Homo sapiens: one gene and its partners. The protein of the gene in region 7 interacts with the protein of the main gene of each other region in a biochemical or structural test. Each region holds a gene or a part of one and is shown on either strand. Other genes may lie near its edges. The genes, in order: WDR77, CTDP1, ESR2, MBP, SMAD1, TCEA1 and CDK8.

Region 1 (3,434 bases), on a different chromosome or scaffold from region 7:
TGAAACCCTGTCTCTACTAAACACACAAAAATTAGCCTGTAATCCCAGCTACTCAAGAGGCTGAGACAGGAGAATTGCTTGAACCCAGGAGGCGAAGGTTGCAGTGAGCCAAGATCATGCCACTGCACACTAGCCTGGGCAGCAAGAGTGAAACTCCATCTCAACAAAAGAAAAAAAAAACCTATGCTTCCCTTCCATATTGTAACCACCTTGACACATTTCCTTCCTTATCACACATTTCCACACATTTGCTTCCTTATCTCTTTCACTGAGTTTTTTCTCCATCATTCTTAAGTCCAGGAAGAAAAGGGCTATGCAAATTCCTACTCACCTCAAGCTCCCCCACCCCTTACTTTCTCTAAGTGTCCACAAAATTAAAGTTTTATCTTCGAGAGGCAGAACTTAAGTGATTGTACCTACCCATTCTATTTCCTCCCACATTATAAAAATGATGCAAGACTTTATTCCTACTCCACATCAACGCCAGAGGATCACACAACTACAAATTCCCATGTTTTACTCAAGGGTAATCATGTCAAGGGTGAAGCATGGAAGCTTTACTGAGAAATATTTTGCCCATATTCCTTCAGACTTTCCCAGTTTCATAATGTGATTTTTACCTAAATTGAACCTGCAAAGCTCAAAAGTACATAATTGATTATATTTACTTTCAATATAATCAGTAATTGATCCATGACTCCTAACTGGCAATATCCACTCCACCAACCCAAGAATAAATATTTACCTTAAGTTCTAACTAGCTACTTTGGGAAGCTGGGGAAGCACAGGAAAAATAATGGGCTACAAGACCAACACCATGATGACTCACATAAGTGAAATATATCTAACTACACATAACACACATGCTTCAAAAAAGACAGGCCAACAATGCCTAAACTCTTTATTTCACCAACCAGTATTTCTGATTTTCTTCTTGATACTGGATTTTAAAACCTTAGAAGTCTATAAATACTGCATTCAGACTTTCCACATCAAGAGAAAGGGGACCAGGGCAGAAGATGTCAGGCCCCATGCTGTTTTGGGGTGGGAAAAGTGGCAAAGAATTCTCAACAGCCTGTGTCAGTTTTCTAACTTAATTGAAACACCTTTAAGCTCTCCTTCATCCCCAAACTTTCCCCTATGGTGTCTATGATAGAAAAACACTTCTCTCTCATATATGTCCCATCACTAGGGAGCCAGGGGGAAGGGAGTGGGCATTACACAGGCAAGCCAAACTTTTTATTCAGCCAGAAAATGGATTTCTGATTCAGTTTAATGGTAAGGAGTTGTGTAAAACCGTACCAAGTCCTGCTTCTTCCTCAGAGTGAGCTGGGCTGCATTTTTGTGACTGGAAGCATTTCTCATAATGGTGAATTAAGCACTATAAAAAAATAAAGTCAATCCCATCTCTATGAGTAGCATAAGAGCTGCTTCCAAGAACCCAGGGATGCCCACATCCCATAACCCACCCAGACACGGCCAATTCCTCATAGACAGCTACATAAAACCCTTTCGTCAACTTGTTTTGGGGGGTGAGAGAGAGGCAGTGCTTAGGGAAGATGTAGGATGGATTTTTTTTATTCCTGCCACTACCAAAAACTATAAATCTACACACACACTCACACGCACATACATGTCCATTTTTAAGAAAGCTTTTCCTCCCTGTGACTACAGGAACCCAGAATCCAGCCTCCCTCAGGCTGAGAGACGATGCCTATTAACGGCACAGATCTAGCATATCAACATACTATAGAAGGCTCCTGTGTTGTCTCACAAGCTGAGAGGGCAGGGCAAAGAAGTGGACACTCATGGGGGACTTGCTTTTTGTCTTAAATCCAATCTACTCAGTAACACTTGCAGGTCCAGGGGCTGGGAGAGGTTCTGTGGGCACAACGTGGTGGACGACCTGATGGTCCCAGCCCACTGTGGTAAGCAGGGAGTGATTGAGCGGGGACCAAGTCGCATCTCTCACAAAGTCTCTGTGGGCTTGGCTTCTAAACCTAGAAGAAAGAAAAAAAGTCGGGGCAGAGTAGAGACAAGAAAAGCAGACCTGGAGAAAAAAAGAGAACCCAACACATCTGGGGCACATTTTTTGGGTGTGTTACACACATTTCACCAACTGTATGGCCTCATCGCCAGGATAGCAGTGTAGCTATCCACAGTGGATGTCATCAGTCATCCAATCCAGTCTTCTATTTTCATAGATGAAGAAATGCTGGATAGAACAAGACAGTGATGAGGGGCAGTAACAGGCAGCAAATCACGGCAAGGAGGGAAGTACAATTCAGGTCTTCCAGGTGCTGCCTTTTACCCTGTAGCAGGCTGCATTTCATACGCAGTTCTTTATGTGAGAGGGTAGACTGCCGCCCCCTTGTGGGAGAGCGCTGGAGGGCTAGACTTAAAAATTTCACCTACCACCCCCCTCTACCAAGGACACGGCTTGTCCTTGGGGTTGTGAATGTGCCCCAGGAATGGACAGGGTCAACAGCCAGCCTGCTTCCATTACCAAGTCCCTTCGGATACAGATGGAGAATCTGTTCTCCAAAAGCACAACACAGTTTTCTGAAGAGGAAAATGACTCGCCCACCCACTGCTCCCCTTCCCTGATTCCCAAAGGATTCCACTTCACACTTACAACTCAGAAAGGCTTGAGTCCAGCACAGCAAGTGAGCAGTCTTCACTGAGAGAGGCCAGGAAGGGAACACTATCAGATGGAGGAGAGGGTTGTGAAAGGTCCAGCCTGGATCCCAAGACAAAACCTTAACTGGGCCGGCCCTGCCGCCACTGTAAAGTGACCCAGGAGAGGCAGCCTGATTCCCACTTTTGGCTAATCTGGCTACTACAAGTCCACACTAAAAGTTTCAAGTAAAGATGAGGGAAATGAAGCAAAGTTAGGGTTGACAACCATCCTGGCAACTAACCACCCCATCTGGTCCCTCTCTATAGCTTCAGCAATAACCCAGAAACACAGGCTTTTCCAATCTCACAGTCCTAGAAGCCCACAACATTAACCATTTTGGGTGTTGGGCAGGAATGAAATCACATTTTAGCCATTTCAGACAGAAACCATCTAATCTGAAAAATCCTTTGACTCCCAAAGGATTCTACTTCACACTTAAGAGATCTTCGATGTTCCGAAACCTCAGCTAGAACACTGTCTGCTTTAAGGAACTACTTCATCAGCTAATGCTTTGAAAACATACACACACACCCTCACGGTTCCCATTTATACCCATCAGGCCCCTGATGACAAAGAACAGTACCTGTGTGGGGAGAACACCAGCCCAGTGACACACTGGGAGTGTACAGCTGAGCTCAGGACACAGCTTGTACTCTTGGTGTCCACAAGGGAGACTGTCCCATTCTCATCACCTGTAGAAGAGAAGGAACATGTCATAGTGATTAAGAGCATGGACTTTTGTGCCAAAGACTTG
Region 2 (3,500 bases), on a different chromosome or scaffold from region 7:
AGGAAGAGAACGAGGGCCATGAGCGGGGCGTCCGGGTGATGAGGGGCACTGCCCAGGTGCATGAACCAACAGCTGTCCAGCAAGGGAACGCCTGGCACGGACCTGCTGGGTGCAGCGAGGACCCACCTCTGTGCCTTGGTGTGATCGTCCCTGAGCGGGAAGAGCTGCTCCTCCACCTTGTCCCAGCGCTCCAGGCAGCTCCACAGCCAGTCAGGGTTGACCACGTGCAGGTGTCCGCACTCCTGTGCCTGCAGCACCTTCTCTGTGCCTGCAGGAGACCCGGCTGCGTCAGGCTGTTCCGGCCAGCACTGGAGGCTCAGGGCCCACATCCGGCTGCACCCACCAGGGCCCTCACCTGGCTGTACCCCACCAGGGCTCAGGGCCCTCACTCGGCTGCATCCCACCAGGGCCTTCACCTGACTGCACCCCTGCAGGGCTCAGGGCCCTCACCCAGCTGTACCCCACCAGGGCCCTCACCCGGCTGCACCCCACCAAGGCCCTCACTCGGCTGCACCTCTCCAGGACTCAGGGCCTTCACCCAGCTGTACCCCACCAGGGCTCAGGGCCCTCACTCGGCTGCACCCCACCAGGGCCCCCACCCGGCTACACCCCACCAGGGCCCAGGGCCCTCACCTGGCAGTACCCACCAGGACTCAGGGCCTTCACCCAGCTGTACCCCACCAGGGCTCAGGGCCCTCACTCGGCTGCAGCCCACCAGGGCTCAGGGCCCTCACCCGGCTGTACCCACCAGGACTCAGGGCCTTTACCCAGCTGTACCCCACTAGGGCTCAGGGCCCTCACTCGGCTGCACCCCACCAGGGCCCTCACCCGGCTGCACCCCACCAGGGCTGCCCACTGCAGGTTCCCATCTGCCAGGCCAGGGATAGGCAGCCATGGTGGGAAGGGGTGGATCTCAGACGGGGAGCCGGGCACAGCGGGTGACCTGAGCAGCAGGAGGACCTCTCTTAGCATGTGTTCAGCAAAGCCTCTCAACAGTGAGGCCACGTACACAGAAGCAAAAAGGAAACGTGAGCACAATTCAGGGGGAAGGAAGGAATGCGAGAGAAGGGCCAGGAGCTTGGGCACTCACAGGACAGGGCAGGCGGGCACCTGAGGGGCCAAGGAGGACCCTGGCCTGGCCCAGCTCCATGCTCAGGAGAGAAGGGTCAGGAGCTGGGCAGACACGCGGCAGGGCAGACAGGCACCTGAGGGGCCAAGGAGGACCCCGGCCTGGCCCGGCTCCACGCTCAGGAGAGAAGGGTCTGACTGCCCACAGGAGGCCAGGGCTTGGCTTTCTCCTGGGATCAAGGGTCTCGCTGGGCTCCACGGAAAGCCCGCCTCTGCCCTGCAGCTAGCACCTGGCTATTTCACACTGAGATGGAACCTTCCATTTACCCTTGATTCAAATGCTTTACTGAGCACATGCGTGTCCAACGCCCCATGATACGTGCCAGAGCCGTGGCCTCAAATAAGACCACACCTGCTGTCAGGGAGCGTGCGTGGACAGGGATGAGCTCACCCCACAAGGCTTTCCTGAGCCCCGGAGGCGGGGCCACGCACTGAGAAGCCCTCTCAGGAAACGCCGCCAGGACAGGAAGCAGATTGGAGGAGAAAAACCGCAATCTTCATTCGCGGAAAATCCAGGTGCTTATGGGAGCATTTTCACAGAATAACTAGAATAACGAGGTATTTGGGTTTTTTAAGCACCGGGGTGTTAAGTCTTCCTTCAAGAATCACCTATTGCTGAAAGGTTGTTTTATTCGGCGGAAGTTTCAACATGTCAGAGCAGCCTGCCCCGTCCGGGACAGGTTTCACCGTCGGGAGACAGCAGGCCTGTCCTCCGCCCTCCCAGCCACAACGTGTCCTTCTGTGCACGTTTCAGCTGAAACCTTGCATTTAGTTTTCTAACTCAGAGGGTTTGTCAATCTTTTACCTGCGAACTCCTGTTCCTGCCTCGAATTTCTCCACTACGTCCCTATCGCTGATTCCCTGTTTTCCAACCCGGCCATGGCTTACTCCAGGGAGAAGGTTGAACTTTCTACACACGAGTAACTCCCACCCCTGAATGGTGTGTGCGATGACTGCGGTCTGAAAGCATGAACGTGCCCAAACTCCAATTTCACCCACTGTCATGATCTATTCTTAAAAGATGGTGATTCTGGGAAATGTTTCTGAAAATTGAAAGTGAGATAAACAGCAATGCCAACTCTAAGGAGTGCCTGCAAGGAGCCCGCGGGCCTGACCATGCCCAGGGCACAGGGAGGCAGCACTCACCAGCTCGCGCGGCGATCAGGTGCGTGGCCCTGTCAGGGGCGTCGGGGCTCAGCACCAGCCGAGTGAGGATCTTCGCTCCCAGCGCCGTGGCGTGGTAATGCTCCCGCGTCTTCTCTATCGGGAAGTTTGTCGGGTGTAGCCCACTGAAAATTATGGCCACGTCTGCCAGCACCTTGCTCTTGAGCTCCGGCACGATCTTGCGGATGTCCGGCGCCTCCTCGATCTCCTTGTTGAGGTAGCGGTCATACTTGGCATAGTAGTCAGTGTGTACACGGACCAGGATCTCCTCCAGGTAGATGAGGTGGTCATCCTCATCCGTGTCCTCCTCCTCCTCCTCCTCCATGCTCTGGTCCAGGGACTCACCCGCAGTGACCCCCGACAGCTCGCTGTTCTGTGACTCGGTCTCCGCCTCCTTCCTGTCGGCACAGCCGTTGCCCAGGCCGCAGAGGCCATCCCGCTCGCCCTCCTCCTGCCCACCCAGCTCAGGCTCCTTGTCCGGGGCATGCGCGCCAGGCTCGGCCTCTCCGGGGAGACTCGGTGCTGCAGGCCGCCCCGGCTCCAGGGAACTGCCCTGTGCCAGCGCCCCGGCTCCCTCTGGGGCAGCCTTCGGCTTCTGCCGGCCTCTTTTCCCCTCGCTTTCGCCATCAGAGGCGGAGGAGGAGGACTTCGTGCCCTCGGACTCACTGCTGCTCTCGCTGTCGCTGGATAAGTCAAAGTCCAGGTCAGTGCCCGTGGCACCCTGGGCAGGCCGCTGTCCCGGTGCCACCCGGCCACCCTGCGCACAGGATCCCTGGGGCTCAGGAGCGCCTGCCAGCTCTTGGCTGCTGGTGGGGGCCTGGGCAGGGGGCCAGATGTCCCTCTCGTCTGGCTTCCCGGGGCGGGGTGAGTCCCGCGGGGTGGCGGCCTCGCTGCCGTTCAGCTCCCGTGCAGGCTTCTCCAGGCCATTGCTGGGCTCCACTCCAGGGGCCTGCGTTACCCCCTCAGGGTCTCTCACGGGCGGAGATGGCTCTGAGACCTCAGTGCCTCGAGAATGATTTACTAAATATGCATGCAAAAGGAAAAGTTACCGCAATTTAGCATTAAACATTAAATAACGTTCCAAGTTAAAGCAGCACCCTTCTCCATGGCTGTGAAGTCCACCACCCTCTAGACCAGGCCTTGGCAACCTTGCTGTGAAGAGGCCGGACAGGGTGAGCACCCCTTACCTGAAGTGCGTGGGACCAGGG
Region 3 (3,500 bases), on a different chromosome or scaffold from region 7:
CATGGCCTCAGTACAATGTTCTGGTACAACAGGAAAAAATTGTCTCTAAAGAGTTTAATTGTTGGGCCTGGCATGGAATTTCACCTGGCCAACCAAAGAACCAGTACCCAGACATCCTGATTCTAAGAATTATTCATTTATTTGCATGTCAATTTTCTTTAGTCACCATAACCTAAAATAGTTGGTCCATATCCTGGGTGGTGAACAGGCTTTGTTTTCTGTCCAGAGACCTCTCTCTCTCTCCCAGCACACACCCCTGTATTTGGCCCTCTCAGGTCACATCTGAATTCAGCCAGAAAGCTTTTTGTACACATGGGATCGTGCATGGTGTTCTAATGTACTGGCTGGGAAACATACTATGGCTTTTGAATTAAAAGAAAAAAGTAGTATTTAAAATTCCCAATTTTGACAATGATTCATGGACAAGAAAAAGTTTGGCCCTAGAAATGGCAGAAAAACACTCCAAAAAGACTACACTTTTTTTTTTTTTTTTTTGAGATGGAGTCTTGCTCTGTTGCCCAGGCTGGAGTGCAGTGGTGCAATCTTGGCTCACTGCAAGCTCCACCTCCCGGGTTCAGCCATTCTCCTGCCTCAGCCTCTCAAGTAGCTGGGACTACAGGTGCCCGCCACCATGCCCAGCTAATTTTTTCTATTTTTTAGTAGAGACGGGGTTTCACCATGTTAGCCAGGATGGTCTTGATCTCTTGACCTCGTGACCCGCCCGCCTTGGGCTCCCAAAGTGCTGGGATTACAGGCATGAGCCACCGTGCCAGCCAAGACTAGACTGGTTTTTATCAAAGCACCTGTAAATCTAGTTAATAAGAAATCAGTCACCCGGGCGCGGGTGGCTCATGCCTGTAATCCCAGCACTTTGAGAGGCCAAGGTGGGCAGATCACCTGAAATCAGGAGTTCGGGACCAGCCTGGCCAACATGGAGAAACCCAGTCTCTACTAAAAATACAAAATTAGCCGGGTGTGGCAGCGCTTGCCTGTAAACCCAGCTACTCAGAAGGCTGAGGCAGGAGAATCGCTTGAACCCAGGAGGTGGAGGTTGCGGTGAGCCGAGATCACGCCACTGCACTCCAACCTAGGTGACAAGAGCAAAACTCTGTCTCAAAAAAAAAAAAAAAAAAAAGGTCAGCCACCATCAAGCCTGTTCTTATGTATATTCTATCAATGGATAGAGCAGAACATTCATTCTAGCCCCAGCTCTGCCTGAAAGCCAGGCAATCTTAGACAAATCCACAAACTCCCTGAGCTGCCACATCTTCTTCAGTAGAATCAGGTACCTATTTGGTGCTGTACCTTTTCACGGTGCTCTGAGGGTGAAATGAGATGATGTCTGTGAAAGGATTCTGAGGCCGGGCGCAGTGGCTCACGCCTGTAACCCCAGCACTTTGGGAGGCCAAGGTGGGCAGATCACCTGAGGTCGGGAGTTTGAGACCAGCCTAACCAACATGGAGAAACCCCGTCTCTACTAAAAATACAAAATTAGCCGGGCATGGTGGCACATGCCTGTAATCCCAGCTACTCGGGAGGATGAGGCAGGACAATCGCTTGAACCTGGGAGGTGGAGGTTGCAGTGAGCTGAGATTGTGCCATTACACTCCAGCCTGGGCAACAAGAGCAAAACTTCATTTCAAAAAAAATAAAGAAAAAGAAAAAGAAAAAAAAAAAGAAAGCATTCTGTAAGGTATTATTACACATCCAAGAAGATGAAGCCAGTCTATTGGTATATCACTGGATACACATTTAGTGTTGGTTGGAATTTCCAGACAAGTTACAATGTCTTTATGGCCACCCTGAAGATTTTTGCCTCCTAATTTTACTTTTTGACTTCTGTCCACAGAAATCCATCACCCCTAGTCCAGATAGCTGGGCTGCTGGTAGCCTGCCAACACTGTGTGTGTGGACAAAATGCCACATATTCCTGATGCCATATTCTCAAGCTTGCAGACTAGGAGGATAAGTCTAGGAGGATAAGAATAGAGGATAAGTCCTCATCCCTATTCTTCTTCCACCTGCCCATCACACTTTCCCAAGCATTCAGTTCAAATGCTCCACATTTGTGTGTCCTGCAGAAGTAAAAAATTCACGCTCACAAAGCAGCAACTAGAAGGAATTTCATGGAAAAGATTTAAAAAGATTTCTTAAGCAACAAGCATCCTTGATGTGCATAAGTAGCTGTTTGACAATTATTAGCTTTTTTGGGGGGTGGGGGTTATACTCTAGCTCTGTAACTCAGGCTAGAGTGTAGTGGCAAGATCATGGCCTACTGCAGCCTTGATCTCCTGGGCTCAAGGGATCCTCCAAACTCAGCCCCCCAAGTAGCTGGGACTAAAGGCATGCACCATCATGCCCAGCTGATTTTTAAATTTTTGTAGAGATAGGGTCTCACTGTGTTGCCCAGATTGATCTTGAACTCCTTGCCTCAAGCAATCCTCCCACCTCGGCCTCCCAAAGTGCTGTGATCACAGGCATGAACCACCACACCTGGCCAATTATTATCTTTAAATGTATTCTTATTTATTTATTTATTTATTTATTTAGAGATAGAGTTTTGCTTTGTTGCCCAGGCTGGAATGCAGTGGCATGATCGCGGCTCACTGTAAACTCGGCCTCCCAGGTTCAAGCAATTCTCATGCCTCAGCCTCCTGAGTAGCTGGGACTACAGGCTTGAGCCACCATGGCCAGCTAATTTTTTGTATTCTTAACAGAGACAAGGTTTCATTATTTGGCCAGGCTGGTCTTGAACTCCTGCCCTCAAGTGATCCAGCCACCTAGGCCTCCCAAAGTGCTGAGATTACAGGCGTGAGCCACCACACCCAGCCTTTTTAAATATATTCTTTCAAAACAAAATATTAAGGCCCTCAATTAATTTAATATTAGGAAGATAAAACACTCCAAAATCACCAGAGAACTCATCATTAATAACTGATTTGCATGTAATTCTTAAGAACATGTACATAAGGAAACCCTGTTTCCTTCTAAAATGAGGAAAAGCTAATTCTCCTAGTAACCAATTGGCGCTTATTTAGTTGGATAGGAAAGAGTTTCAAGGGTTTGAATAGGGTAGGAGGACCAAGCCTCGAAGGCAGGGGTGGGAGAGAGTTCATCAGTCTTCTCAAGTGTCTTCTCTCTCAACAGCAAGTTTCTGCTCTTCCCTAACACCAACAACAGCCACAGACCATGCTCTGTAGGAACTGGACCAAATTCAAATATTCATTTGGGACAGGGTCAGAGAGAATTCCGAGTGAAGGGATTCAAGATGACACAGCCAATCCAGAAGTTAGGCTGAATGCACTCAACTCCCCTTCCAGGCCTGGGTTTGACAGTAGAACACACAACAATTTACTAACAAAATGCTGCAGTCTGGCTTTGAGGAAACATATACAAGTCCAGCAATCTATCTTTCTAGGTCACCCTAACTCTCCTGCCCTCTCTCAAGTACACCCACACAAAGATTCTCCACTAAAAGCCCTTCATTTTCAAGACCTGTC
Region 4 (2,226 bases), on a different chromosome or scaffold from region 7:
GCACTGCACTCCAACCTGGGTGGCAAAGTAAGATCCTGTCTCAAAAGAAAAAGAAAAAACAAAAGAGACTTTCGTCTATCTTTTTGAAGAAAAATTCTTGTAACCAAAGGTAACTATAAGTAAAACATTGCTTCACGCTCTTTCATGCTTTCAGAGAAAAAGGTGGCAAGGGGAACACGTCCAAGACTCCTGGGTTCACATCTGCAGGGTGTGTACACTAGCCACACAGCAGAACACAGACAGACTTGGAAGCTTGTCTTCAGAGACACTAAATATTTTTTTCCTGGTGAGAGAATCAGTGCCCTAACAACTACCTCTGTTCCACTTTCTTCAGTAGCCATCGACCCTCTGATGAGGATGCCCCCTCCAACAGGCACCGCCAGGCAGCCCTGCCTGGAGACCCAGAGGCACCGAGTCACATTTGCTCTGCACACCTGGCTCTCGCTTGATGTGGGCCTGTGTGCTACAGCCCGGAACACAAAAGAAGACACCCATGCAAATACCATTAAAAGTTTATTGTTTTATTTCAATATTCAGGAACAGTGTACACTTTCCGTTCAGCCATCGTCACAGCACGTGCTGTGTGGGTGCGGCCACGTATGGATCGCAGAGCCGACCTCAGCTCAGCGACGCAGAGTGCTTCTGCTGAAAAATTTGGAGGTTTGTGTCTGGAGTTTTGTTCTTTGTAACTCTCTCATCATCGAGGCTATATATTAATAGACATGGTATTAAGCCCACACGAAACATTCAGAATTAGAATTGGATTAAGAAGACGCGTTTTGGCATCACGCTGACTACTCCTCATCTCCGTCCTCGGGGAGGGTGATGCCAGCGTGGGACTCTTTGGAAGGCCTATCAATCACAGGTGCGCTAAAATCAAAAGGTGGGTCAGTAGGTTAGGGAGGGAGGCGCGAAAGGAGATGCCAGCGGGTGTTAAGAAGGATATGGTCAGAAGAGCTCTTTGTCTCCATCCACGGGGCCGTCTGCTCAGCCCGTGTGTCTCGGTGAGTAATTCGGGAGCAGGTGCACGCCTGTGCCTACTCGCTACCACGCGTCTTCTGGGAGGAAGTGAATGAGCCGGTTATCTTCTCAGGGAGGGTTAGTGCTGGCCACTGTGCACTGCCGCTGCCAGCACGCCCGGTCACAGCCAGTGTCTATGGGCGACTGGCGCGGCTGCGAGGCTGTCTAGAGGACTCCTACCCTTCTGCTCTGAGTGCGCAAGTCTTCCTGGACTCTCCGGCTGTGGGCTGTGGTTTGGAAACGAGGTTGTTCATAGAGGCTGCTCTGGGGCCACCATGCAGGGCAACGGTGACGTCCAGAGGCCACCTGCTTGACATCTCCATCACCAAATCTCCAGGAAGACCCTGTTTCCTATGTGAGGCCATTGCCCAGCCCACGTTTGCCTCCTTTTCCTCCCTCTGCCACACGCGAATTCAGCTAATTGGGGTGTGTGGGCAGCCACGGCCTGGGGAGGTGGCCCCCTCTCTGTGCTGCCCCACGTTGGACTCTAACAGCTGCCCAGCCCGCATGTCACATACCAAAAGCTCCCACATGTAGTAAGCCACTCCTTGACTGTCTAATCCTGTTAGGAAAAATGAAGTCTACTTTAGGAGGTGAGAGAAGGACAGGAAAAAAAAACAAAGGAAGCTTGGATGTCAACAGTCCTCTCTGCCGCCCACGTCCTCTCTGTCTCTGCAGCTGTGTGCCTCCATGGCAGTGACCAGCAAAAGCGCAAGGGTGCCGCAGCCACGGCGAAAAGAAAGTCCAAGGGTGGAGGGGTGAACGTGGAGGGACGTCTGTGCACCTGGCCCCCTGAAGACCCACGTGCGTCTGGGGGCACATTGCGGGGGAAGGAACGTGATCTTCACACAGAAAGGGACAGTTTTAACCGTTTTCTGTTTTCATGTTCTCATTTAACTGTTGGCCGGAAATTGCCGGTAGGCTGCCGTGGCCTGACCCTACTACGTGCACAACTCCGCAGGCATTAGGGGAGGGGTCATCTGCTCTAATTAGGTAACAGGGGCAAGTGGGATTAAAGTTTTAAGGCAGTTATATTAAGAAGCTGAGGACAGGATTCCGGAACCAGGTGGGTTTTCAGCGTCTAGCCATGGGTGATCCAGAGCGACTATCTCTTCCTCCCTGAAAAGGAAGAGAGAGGAGTTAGGACGAGAGTGCCGCAGGGTCCTCCCACACCAGCATCCCCTCTTCTGTGGTCCCGGGTGGATG
Region 5 (3,500 bases), on a different chromosome or scaffold from region 7:
TTAAAACTTATGTATAAAAATATATTCTGAATCAACAGAGAGACCCCTCTCTCCTCCTCTTCCCAAACAGGACCTAGTGAATATTCATTTACATCCTGAACTCAAAAGCATATACATGCATAATTAACAATTGTATGTTCTTTCTTCAGATCCAGGCTTATTGTCTCAAAAAAAATATTTGTTAAGAAACCAATCTATACTGCAAACCTAGGTTCTTATTAAAAAAAAAAAAGTTCCTTTTTCAAACACTAAGAACATAAAAGAGATTTGGGAAAATCACCAGGTAAGGACTTCCTCACACCTTAGAGAATTTAATGCTTTATTTTCAAGAGAGAGTCTTCTCTAAAGTTCAGATTTTAGCTTATAACAAAAATTATAAAGATGCTGAACTGTTCAAATACTGTAGTTCCCAGTACCTTACTAAAACTCTGATGTAGTCACTGGAGTGAAACTGCTTATGAAACTTTTGGCTTTTCTTTTCTGAAAGATAGTTTCCTTTATGCAAATGAATGTTCTAGAGAAGCCGCTCATTTCTGCAAGTCAGCCCGCAATAGCTACAGACATTACTGTTTTGCATATAGGACTAGCCCTGCACCTCTAAAACTGACACCATCTTAATAACGCAGAGCAAGATGAGTATTTTAATTTAGATTTTAAGCAATTACATTAATACTATTTGGCTCTGCCTTTTTCTTCTCTTTCCTTTTCTTTTTAAAGGTGGCTACAGCAGAGTGATGAAAATACTTCAGGTATTTTTGCTGCAAATCAGATGCCAGATCAACAGATTAGACTGAATATTTGTACTACCAGATAACAGCAGGAAAGGAAAATAAAGGGTCAAGAGGTTTCAGATTGGGGCAAAGAGGACATGCCCCTATTTGTTATCAAAGTATGTCCTAAAATCTTGGTACCAAAGAGTAAAACCACATATAGAAGTAGCAGAACATTTCATCAACCTCAAAGACATGCTATGACTTAAAACCGATTTTTTCCACTTTTTTATATTTAAATTATCCTTTTTCTCCTCAGACCTGTCCAATTCTCTCCCTAGGACTCCCTAGCTCCCTAAATACCCCAAACTTTAGCTTTTGGTTAGGAATGTGATTTGTTTTCGAGAGTCAAGAGGAGATTCGTATATTTTGCTAGATGTCAGAGTTGCCTGCTTTAATTTGAACTTTGTGCAATCTTGGATCTCCCATTTTCTAATAAGGTCTCATTGATTAAATTAGATATAGGGCTTTTCTTTTCCATCTCCAGAATGAAAAAGAATCAATTTTAATATGTAGAAAATAAGCATTTCTCTCTGGTTGTCAGATTTGATTCCTACTTAGCTCAAACAATGTTAGGTATAAAAAGTTGCTAACAGGCCAAAAAATTCTTTCCTCCCTTCCCTAAATTACACTGGATATGCTTACACCAAAGCCTCAGAAATATCGTGAGCGTGGTAGGGAGAAAAAAAACCTGAAAACAAAAGGGCACTTAATGCCAAGAGGAGTCCAGATCTTGGCTTTCCCTTTTCCAATCACTAGACAGGTAACTTTGGATGTCAGTTACCTTCTCTGGACTTCAGACTGTTCACCTTGATATGAACCAACCAGATTAGAAAATCTTTAAAGCAACTTTTAATACTAAGTATCTCTATTCTCTGTAAAGGAAATTACAAATCTTAATGTTTATGAAAGCACTTGGCAGTCCCATGGACATATTTCACCCGAAAGACCATGAGATTTGGATAGTTAAGTGTACACATTAACTCACCATGACATATAAGCATTTTGGGATAGGAAGGTGGGAATAAGAAGATACAAGATCCATAGTTTCATCGATTCTTAAACAGCCCTGACCTTGTAAAACATTTACAAAAATAGATGTTGAATGTTTTTTTAAAAATCCCCAATGAATTTGCAATTACTATTCTTACAGTGTTTAACAGCTCAGGGAAGATAGACTAATTTTGGTAAGACAGACAAACTGAATTACTACAACTTTCCTCCTAACTTAATATCAGTTTGTGATTATGTAAGAAAATGCAAGAGGAAAGTGACAAGAATTATGCAGAAAAGCAGAGATAAAACTAATTTGGCTTTGAAATGCATTATTTTCATGCCAGATTTATTCTTCAAATTATGTGCTGCTTAGATGAGCATTATTTTTCCTTTCTTAAACACTTACAAAAGAACGACAGAAGATAGCCCAGAAAGGCACAATAGAAGGTAAATTTATTTAAAGACCTACAAAATACACAAGCCAAGTCATGTCTATACTGGCATAGTAAAGCACAGCAGAACAATGATGATTTGGGTCTTCTGAACGAAAGACCAAAAAACATAGTTAAGATGGAGTTTCTAGAGTTGGACTGCCTCGATCATATCCCAGGTAAGATTAGAAATCATAATCATTCACTGTACCTCCTGAAGCAAGATACTGAATCATTCTGTCCTCAGTTTCTTTACCTGTAAAATGTGACAACAATAGTACTTATGGAAGTTTTGAGGCTTAAATGAGATATGGGTATTATAAACAATGCCTGGCATACATACAGTAAAAATTCAGAAAAAAGGGTTAGCTACAATTATTTCTTCTCTCTAAGGCTCTAAACCAAATTAGAATCGATGACACTAATAATAAATAAGATCTACAGAAAAGTCAAACTCCTTTTATCCAGCAGCTTCAACTGTCCCTTCCAAATTGTGTTTTATTTTAAAAAGAACAGCTAGTTAGTGATAAAATTAGTTTATATATGTCTTTCCATCTTTGACTCCACAAATCATTAGTAGAGTTAACAAGTGAGAAGAGGTAAAGGTCCTGGGGCAGCAATGGCTAGCAGAACCTCCTGTGATGATGGAACTATTCTATATACACGCTGTCCAGTATGGCAGCCACTAACCACAAGCAGCTACTAAGCACTTGAAATGCGGCTACTGCTGAGAAAACGAATTTTTATTTAATTTTAATTTAAACTTAAATAGCTATAAGTAGCCGAGTGCAGTGGCTCACACCTGTAACCCCAACACTTTGGGAGGCCGAGGCGGGAGAACAGCTTGAGCCCAGGAGTTCAAGACCAGCCTGGGCAACATGACGAAACCCTGTCTCTACAAGAAATACAAAAACAAATTAGTCAGGCAGACATGGTGGCAGTGCCTGTAGTCCCAGCAACTTGGGAGGCTGAAGTGGGAGGACTGCCTGGGCCTGGGAGGTCGAGGCTGCAGTGAGCCATGATCGTGCCACTGCACTCCAGCCTGGGTAACACAGAGAGACCCTGTCTCAAAAAAATAGAATAATAAAATTTCAAAAAAAGCTACGTGTGACTATGGCTAGGATAGCAGAGCCCTAGATAATCCATAAGCTAAATAAGGATTGTCAGAAACTTAAGCAAAATAAGGATCTTCTTTTCCTGAACTGTTTATATGTTCAATTCAAATATCTTTGTTTCTGGTATAGGCCTGGTAAGTTTGACTAGTTAAAGAAATAACATGTCAGTAGATATCAATACAGTGAAA
Region 6 (3,500 bases), on a different chromosome or scaffold from region 7:
ACAGGTGTGCACCACCATGCCTGGCTAATTTTCGTATTTTTAGTAGAGATGGGATTTCAACGTATTGGCCAGGCTGGTCTTGAACTCCTGATCTCAGGTGATCTGCCCGTCCTGGCCTCCCAGAGTGCTGGGATTACAGATGTGAGCCACTGCGCCCAGCCTGAAAAAGTTAACTTTGAAGAGTAATAGTTGTCATCAGAATTGACAAATTTAAGTGCAAATTTAGATATCATTTAAAAAAATATTTTAACATGCTGCTGCTTTACCTGAATAATTTTGTTTTACTAAAACCATAGGTGTCACACTTAACTAAAAACAGCTTACCATTTATTGAGCTATTACTCTGAGCCAGGTATTCTGCTAAATACTTACCCACCTTATCCCATTTATTCCTCAGGCAACTTTGCAAGATGAGTATTATCCTCATTCTGAAAATGAGGATGCTAAGTATTTAGAATAGTCTTAAGCCAAATAGCTAGTGAATGGCCAAGTGAAGATGTGAATCTAAATCTGTTTTGCTCCAAAGCTAGTACTCCTCTCTTAAGCTACAGTGTCTCTCTAGAAGACCCTTGCATCTGCTCTTGAACCATGCATGGATACAATTAAGTGAATACAAAATCAGGAAGTAAGAGTATGAACTTGCTGTTTTGGGGCAGGTGTGTTTCCCTAGTTACCTAGATCAATATCCTGACCCTAGTTCTACCCAAGATGTTGTCCCACATGTGTACTTGATCTCAAGTGCACATGACCAAGCCACAGTGAACCACAGAAAGTAGTTCGAAATTTTTAGGTATTAGCTGTTTTCTGCTTAAGCTGTTTTCTTGTCACTTTGATTCGGTGTCAGTAACCAAGTCTGACTGCTAATGTGGGTTCAAATCCTGGCTTTTCTGAACTTTTCTGAACTTTAGCTGTGTGATTTTAGGCAAGTTCTTTGTCATCACTAAAATGTTTCTCGTCATGGTAAACTGGAGATAATTTAGTAAGGATTAAGTGAATATAAAATGCTTCTAGTGTAGGATTGTGGGCCTAAAGGATGTAATAAGGCCTAAAAAACAATCTGAGGTTGCCTTTCTTTGTAAAGGATTCATTTAGATTATAGAAGGAGGAGTGAGGCAAGGACATAAAGTTTTGAAGTTCATGGAGAGATTTTGTGGGTAGTGCTGAGGTTTATTTATTTATTTCATTGAAGGCTCAAGGTTGAGTGGAATTAAATTGCAGGGAGAGAAATTGAAATTAGATGTTAGAATTTCGTAGGAGCTGGGATACCTGAAATATTGATTTACATTTCCAAGTACCTCAGTTAAAATAACAACTGCAACAAAACTTTGATATCTATATCAGAGTTAGATTAATTAGCATAATTCAAAATTTAGAATGACTATACAATTTTTAATAACAGCTTTATCGAGAAATAGAATTAAATTCATTCTTAAAGTGTAGTTGACTCTTGAACAATGCAAGGGTTGTGGTGCTCACACTATCCCCCCTCCCTACCCGCATGCAGTCAAGTAGTATAACTTTTGTAGTAGTATAACTCATGCAGTCATGTCACTCAGGCTGGAGTGTGGTGGCATGATCTTGGCTCACTGCAACCTCCGCCTCCTGGGTTTAAGCAGCTCTCCCACCTCAGCTTCCCGAGTAGCTGGGACTACAAGTGCGTGCCACCACACCCAACTAATTTTGTATTTTTAGTAGAGATGGGATTTTACCATTTTTCTCAGGCTGGTCTCCACATCCTGACCTCAAGTGATTCACCTGCCTCGGCCTCCCAAATTGCTGGGATTACAGGCGTGAGCCACTGAGCCCAGCCTTTTTTGGGTATTTTTTATAGAGATGGGGTTTCACCATATTGCCCAGGCTGATCTAGAACTCCTGAACTCAAGTGATCTGCCTGCCTTGGCCTCCCAAAATGTTGGGATTATAGGCACTTAGCCTGGGTGACAGAGCGAGACAATGTCTCAAAAAAGAAAAGAAAAGAAATAAAGGAGAGAAAATATGTTTACTGTTCATGAAGTGGAAATGTGTCGTCGTAAAGGTCTTCATCCTCTTTGTCTTCACATTGAATAAGCTGAGGAGAAAGGAAGAGTTGGTTTTGTCATCTAGGGTTGCAGAGGTGAAAGAAAATTCTCAGGTGAATCTGTGCAGTTTAAACCCATGTTATTTGAGGGTCAACTGTTAATTCAGTGGCTTTTAGTGTATTTACGGGTTTGTGCAACTATTACTACTGTATAATTTTAGAACATTTTCATCACTCCAAAAAGAAACCCTGTACCTATTAAGCAGTCACTCCTCATTCAGCCCTCATTTGCCCCCACCAATTTCTCACACGCCTCTGACAGCCACTAATATACTTTCTGTCTGTGTGTTTGCCAAATCTGGAAATTTTCTGTCAGTGAAATTATACAGTATGTGGTCTTTTGTAACTGGCCTCTTTTGCTTAGTATAGTCTTTTTTTTTTTTTTTTTTTTTTGAGACGGAGTCTCATCTTGCTCTGTCGCTCAGGCTGGAGTGCAGTGGCGCGATCTCGGCTCACTGCAACCTCCGCCTCCCAGGTTCAAGCAGTTCTCCTGTCTCAGCCTCCCGAGTAGCTGGGACTATAGGCGCGCACCACCACACCCGGCTAATTTTTGTATTTTTAGTAGAGATGGGGTTTCACCATATTGGCCAGGCCGGTCTCAAACTCCTGACCTCATAATCCGCCTGTCTTGGCCTCCCAAAGTGCTGGGATTTCCACGCGTGAGCCACACCGCCTGGCCTGATTTTTGTATTTTTAGTAGAGACAGGGTTTCACCATGTCGGCCAAGCTGGTCTAGAACTCCTGATCTCAGGTGATCTACCCGCTTCAGCCTCCCAAAGTGCTGGGATTACAGATGTGAGCCACTGCACCCAACCACGATTTGCTTATTCATTCATCATTTGGTGGACATTTGGGCTGTTTCAGCTTTTTGGCTGTTGTGAATAATACTGTTAAAAACATTGCTGTACAAGTGTCTCGCTCTGTCACCCCGGCTGGAGTGCAGTGGTGTGATGGCTCACTGTAAGCTCCGCCTCCCGGGTTCCCACCATTCTCCTGCCTCAGCCTCCCGAGTAGCTGGGGCTACAGGCACCCAGCACCATGCCCGGCTATTGTATTTTTAGTAGAGACTGGGTTTCACTGTATTAGCCAGGATGGTCTCGATCTCCTGACTTCATGATCTGCCCGCCTCGGCCTCCTAAAGTGCCGGGATTACAGGCGTGAGCCACCGCGCCTGGCGACATATGTTTTCATTTCTGTTGGGTGTATACCTCGGAGAATAATTACTGGGTCATATAGTAACTATGTTTAACCTTTTGAGGAACTGCCAGACCTTTCCAGTGTGGCTGCACCATTTTACATTCCAACTAGCAGTGTGTGAGGATTCCAGTTTCACCTCATTTTCACCAATATCATTTGTCTTGATTATAGCCTTCCTAGTGGGTGTAAAGTGGTATTTCATTGTGGGTTTGATTTGCATGTCCCT
Region 7 (3,500 bases):
TTGCTCCTCCTCTTATATGGGAACCCAAGGAAATCCTTTATGACAAGCAAAAATGAGCTTTGCTGATTAAAGTGTCATTTAGGGGCTTTCCAGTTAAGAGGCATTCCTGTTCATCTCTTGCTTTATGAAATGCTGATCACATTAGTTTCAGTAGTGATCCAGCTATTCAGTGACAGGTTGGTTATGCGTGCTGTAGCTCCTTACTGTCTGCAGTTACAGTTTCATGTTCCAAAATTGCAAATATTCCCAAATGTGTTCCCTATACCATCTTTTGTTTTGTTAATAAATGTAGTAGGAAGGGTAAAACAAAAATTACCTTTGAATGGTGACACATACTTCAGCTAGAATCTATATTTGGTCTGTATTAATAGAAGAGTAATGCTGGGATAAAAGAAGAAAGCTGAATCATACTCGATGATTATTGATCATTTGTATACAGCTCAAGCCCTCAAGTAGCCTGCTGTAATATTACTAGTTACAAAGAAAAGATTCGTTTTGTCACAGTTACATGAAAGGTGCTTATATTTGCAAATATGGAGACAAAGTTCATCTTAAAAGATTAAAATGAGAATCTCCTAAATGAAGCATTTGGAATATTGATTAGTATACCAGAAATGGTTTTTCTTTTTCTTATGATCAGCGTTTTTGCCGGTTGTCAAATCCCTTACCCAAAACGAGAATTTTTAACGGAAGAAGAACCTGATGACAAAGGAGACAAAGTAAGTATTAAAGTACTGTTAGCAGCTTCTTGTTTCGTGAATGCCTCCATAACATTTTCCATTGTGGGTATATTTTGTTCTCCCTCTGAGCTGAACTTTTTCTGTTTAACCAATTGAGAAGAACCAGCAGCAGCAGCAGGGCAATAACCACACTAATGGAACTGGCCACCCAGGGAATCAAGACAGCAGTCACACACAGGGACCCCCGTTGAAGAAAGTGAGAGTTGTTCCTCCTACCACTACCTCAGGTGGACTTATCATGACCTCAGACTATCAGGTATTCCAAGTTTATTTTGTATTGACTGCATGTCAGTGTTTACATATGGGTTTATGATCGTGGGAAAATGTGATTTAATTGAGAAATACTGACGTCTGTATACCCAGGGAAATACATTAACATGAAATGTTACTGGCATGGAAAAGTACTGACAGTGGTATGGTAGCAAGGGTTTAGACTTTTGAACCAGACTTGGAATGATCAAATACAAATTATGCCATTTATTAACTGTGTGACCTTGGACAAGTAGGATAATATCTCCTGGCGTTTTTTCATCTGTAAAATGAAACTAGTAAAACCTAACTTGCAGCTGTTGTCAGATTAGACATGAAGTGGCTTGACACCTAGCTTATGGTAGGAGCTTGATAGCTATTGTTTTGGAACAATGTTTCACAGTGATTAAGAACATAGGCTTTCAGATCCCAGTCTGGCCACTTACTTCTCTGTATCCTTGAGTAAGTGATTCAGATGTTCTCAGTTTCCATTTGTAGACTGGATAATGATCAATGTGAAGCTGTAGTAAGGATTAAATGAGATAACTCTGGGAGGTTAAGTGTTGCAGCCATTTCAGGAAACTGAGGCTTGTAGAGGTTAAATAACTTTCACATGGATCCCCAGCAAGCTGTAGATGCAGGACTCATATTTGATCTGACCACAAAGGCTGTTATGTTGCCTGCTTAGGGATCCTATCATGGCATTGTCAGTTACGTTGTGGAAAGACCCTCTTTGAAAATTGTATACCACCTCCTTTTCTCTTCTGCTTATTCTAACCATATTCCCAACTACACAAGGGTTCAGTGTGGGAAGGATACTGAAAATCTGACCAATTAGAATTATTTACACACAAAAAAAAAGAGAGAGAGAAAGAGATGTTATTAAACTGATAAGGTCCCGAGTGCTCGTTACTGTACTTTCAGAATTAGGTATTAACTCTTTCTTTTGGTTAGGGGAGAAGTCCAGCCCATCACACCATGGAAATCACTGTTGTGTGAGTAGTAATTCTCTTCCAGTTAGCTAAACAAGGACACCAAGGGCAGACAGCTGTGGGAGTTGTTGGTTCCAGTATCTTTTTCTTCCTTTCCGGATGGGAAGAGTGCATCTCTCTTGGCCCACAAATGTGTTTGCACACTAAGGTGATGGCATCCTTAGAAGGAAGCAGAGCAGTGCTCTGACCTTCGCTTCTGGAACCGAGAAAATGATGCCATGCTGCTTTGTTGGTGTGATTGTTGTTGGTTTTTTGTGGATGAATTTTAAAATAGTATTTGTGACTATCATTTCATGTGTCCACTCTTTTTAAAAATGTTACCTTTTCTAGGATTGGCAGAATTTGGAATTATATGTCTTATTAAATATGCTTTGAAAGACAGAAGTAATAAGTTCTGGTTAATCTTTTATAGTGTTTGTCTTGGGAGCAAATAGTATGAGAGAGAGGTGTGAGAATGGGAATAATAATCTAACATATCAAAATTAGAGAACCCCAAACCATCACATTCTTTCTCTTTGTGCCATTTTAGAATTGAGAATACCGTCCTTCTTACTGTGGTTATATTTTTACTTTTGTATATAAACTTGTAGCAGAAAATAAGATTCAGTAGCTTAAAGGGGCCAGGCACTGTGGCTCATGCCCGTAATCCCAGTGGTTTAGAAGGCTGAGGGGAAGGATCACTTGAGGCCTGGAGTTTGAAATCAACCTGGGCAACATAGCAAGACTCTGTTCCTTCAAAAAAAATTTTTAAAAATTAGCTGAGCATGGAGGTGCATGCCTATAATCCTAGCAATGATTATACCATTACACTCCAGCCTGGATGATAGAGTGACACCCTGTCTCAAAAGAAAAAAAAAATAGTTTAAAGGGCATAAAAATGTATTAATGCCAAAGAAATGGATTCTGTGATACCTTCTCCTATCATACTCACTTTTACTCTTCAGTCATGTGTGTGGGGGTGAGTTTTCTACTGAAGAAAGCATGTAAATAAGCTTTGAATTTTTTATGTATACATCATTAAGTTTCTGGGTAAACATCTCAAGCAAATTTACCAAGTAGATACAAAACAGCATAAAAAGGGGTTACTCCTGTAGAAAAAAATGTATTTGCACAGCATAGTAATAAGCCTAGGCTTAATATTATTTACTAGCAATATTTCTGACCTTCCTCAAGAGAAGAGGATGTTAAAATATTTGGGGTTTTTGTCTTTAATTATAAAGTTAGTACATAGCACAAAACCTATACATCCTTTCTTCCTTGAAACATAATGACACTTCAGTCACATATTGGGATTGAGCTTCCCCTAGAAGCACCTGAATCACACTTTTCCCTCATCTCCTTTCCAGCGTTCCAATCCACATGCTGCCTATCCCAACCCTGGACCAAGCACATCACAGCCGCAGAGCAGCATGGGATACTCAGCTACCTCCCAGCAGCCTCCACAGTACTCACATCAGACACATCGGTACTGAGCTGCATCGGAATCTTGTCCATGCACTGTTGCGAATGCTGCAGGGCT

The links.
Region 1: the proteins of CDK8 (region 7) and WDR77 form a complex in vitro, tested with the Homo sapiens proteins (one study listed by BioGRID).
Region 2: of the proteins of CDK8 (region 7) and CTDP1, one has a biochemical effect on the other in vitro, tested with the Homo sapiens proteins (one study listed by BioGRID).
Region 3: the proteins of CDK8 (region 7) and ESR2 form a complex in vitro, tested with the Homo sapiens proteins (one study listed by BioGRID).
Region 4: of the proteins of CDK8 (region 7) and MBP, one has a biochemical effect on the other in vitro, tested with the Homo sapiens proteins (one study listed by BioGRID).
Region 5: of the proteins of CDK8 (region 7) and SMAD1, one has a biochemical effect on the other in vitro, tested with the Homo sapiens proteins (one study listed by BioGRID).
Region 6: the proteins of CDK8 (region 7) and TCEA1 form a complex in vitro, tested with the Homo sapiens proteins (one study listed by BioGRID).

The regions. Positions count from the first base shown.
Region 1 is NC_000001.11:111,439,390-111,442,823, forward strand, and holds the end of WDR77 (methylosome protein WDR77), read right to left. Parts: intron 3,373-3,434; coding exon 3,264-3,372; intron 2,741-3,263; coding exon of another isoform or gene 2,705-2,740; coding exon 2,636-2,704; intron 2,001-2,635; coding exon 1,841-2,000; 3' UTR 501-1,840; downstream 1-500. UniProt on the Homo sapiens protein: Non-catalytic component of the methylosome complex, composed of PRMT5, WDR77 and CLNS1A, which modifies specific arginines to dimethylarginines in several spliceosomal Sm proteins and histones.
Region 2 is NC_000018.10:79,714,303-79,717,802, reverse strand, and holds part of CTDP1 (RNA polymerase II subunit A C-terminal domain phosphatase), read right to left. Parts: intron 3,313-3,500; coding exon 2,275-3,312; intron 269-2,274; coding exon 127-268; intron 1-126. UniProt on the Homo sapiens protein: Processively dephosphorylates 'Ser-2' and 'Ser-5' of the heptad repeats YSPTSPS in the C-terminal domain of the largest RNA polymerase II subunit. This promotes the activity of RNA polymerase II.
Region 3 is NC_000014.9:64,287,872-64,291,371, forward strand, and holds part of ESR2 (estrogen receptor beta), read right to left. Parts: intron 1-3,500.
Region 4 is NC_000018.10:76,978,333-76,980,558, forward strand, and holds the end of MBP (Golli-MBP), read right to left. Parts: exon of another isoform or gene 2,140-2,226; coding exon 2,095-2,139; 3' UTR 501-2,094; downstream 1-500. UniProt on the Homo sapiens protein: The classic group of MBP isoforms (isoform 4-isoform 14) are with PLP the most abundant protein components of the myelin membrane in the CNS. They have a role in both its formation and stabilization.
Region 5 is NC_000004.12:145,484,853-145,488,352, reverse strand, and holds part of SMAD1 (mothers against decapentaplegic homolog 1), read right to left. Parts: intron 1-3,500. UniProt on the Homo sapiens protein: Transcriptional modulator that plays a role in various cellular processes, including embryonic development, cell differentiation, and tissue homeostasis.
Region 6 is NC_000008.11:54,015,949-54,019,448, reverse strand, and holds part of TCEA1 (transcription elongation factor A protein 1), read left to right. Parts: intron 1-3,500.
Region 7 is NC_000013.11:26,400,629-26,404,128, forward strand, and holds part of CDK8 (cyclin-dependent kinase 8), read left to right. Parts: intron 1-640; coding exon 641-719; intron 720-837; coding exon 838-996; intron 997-3,327; coding exon 3,328-3,453; 3' UTR 3,454-3,500.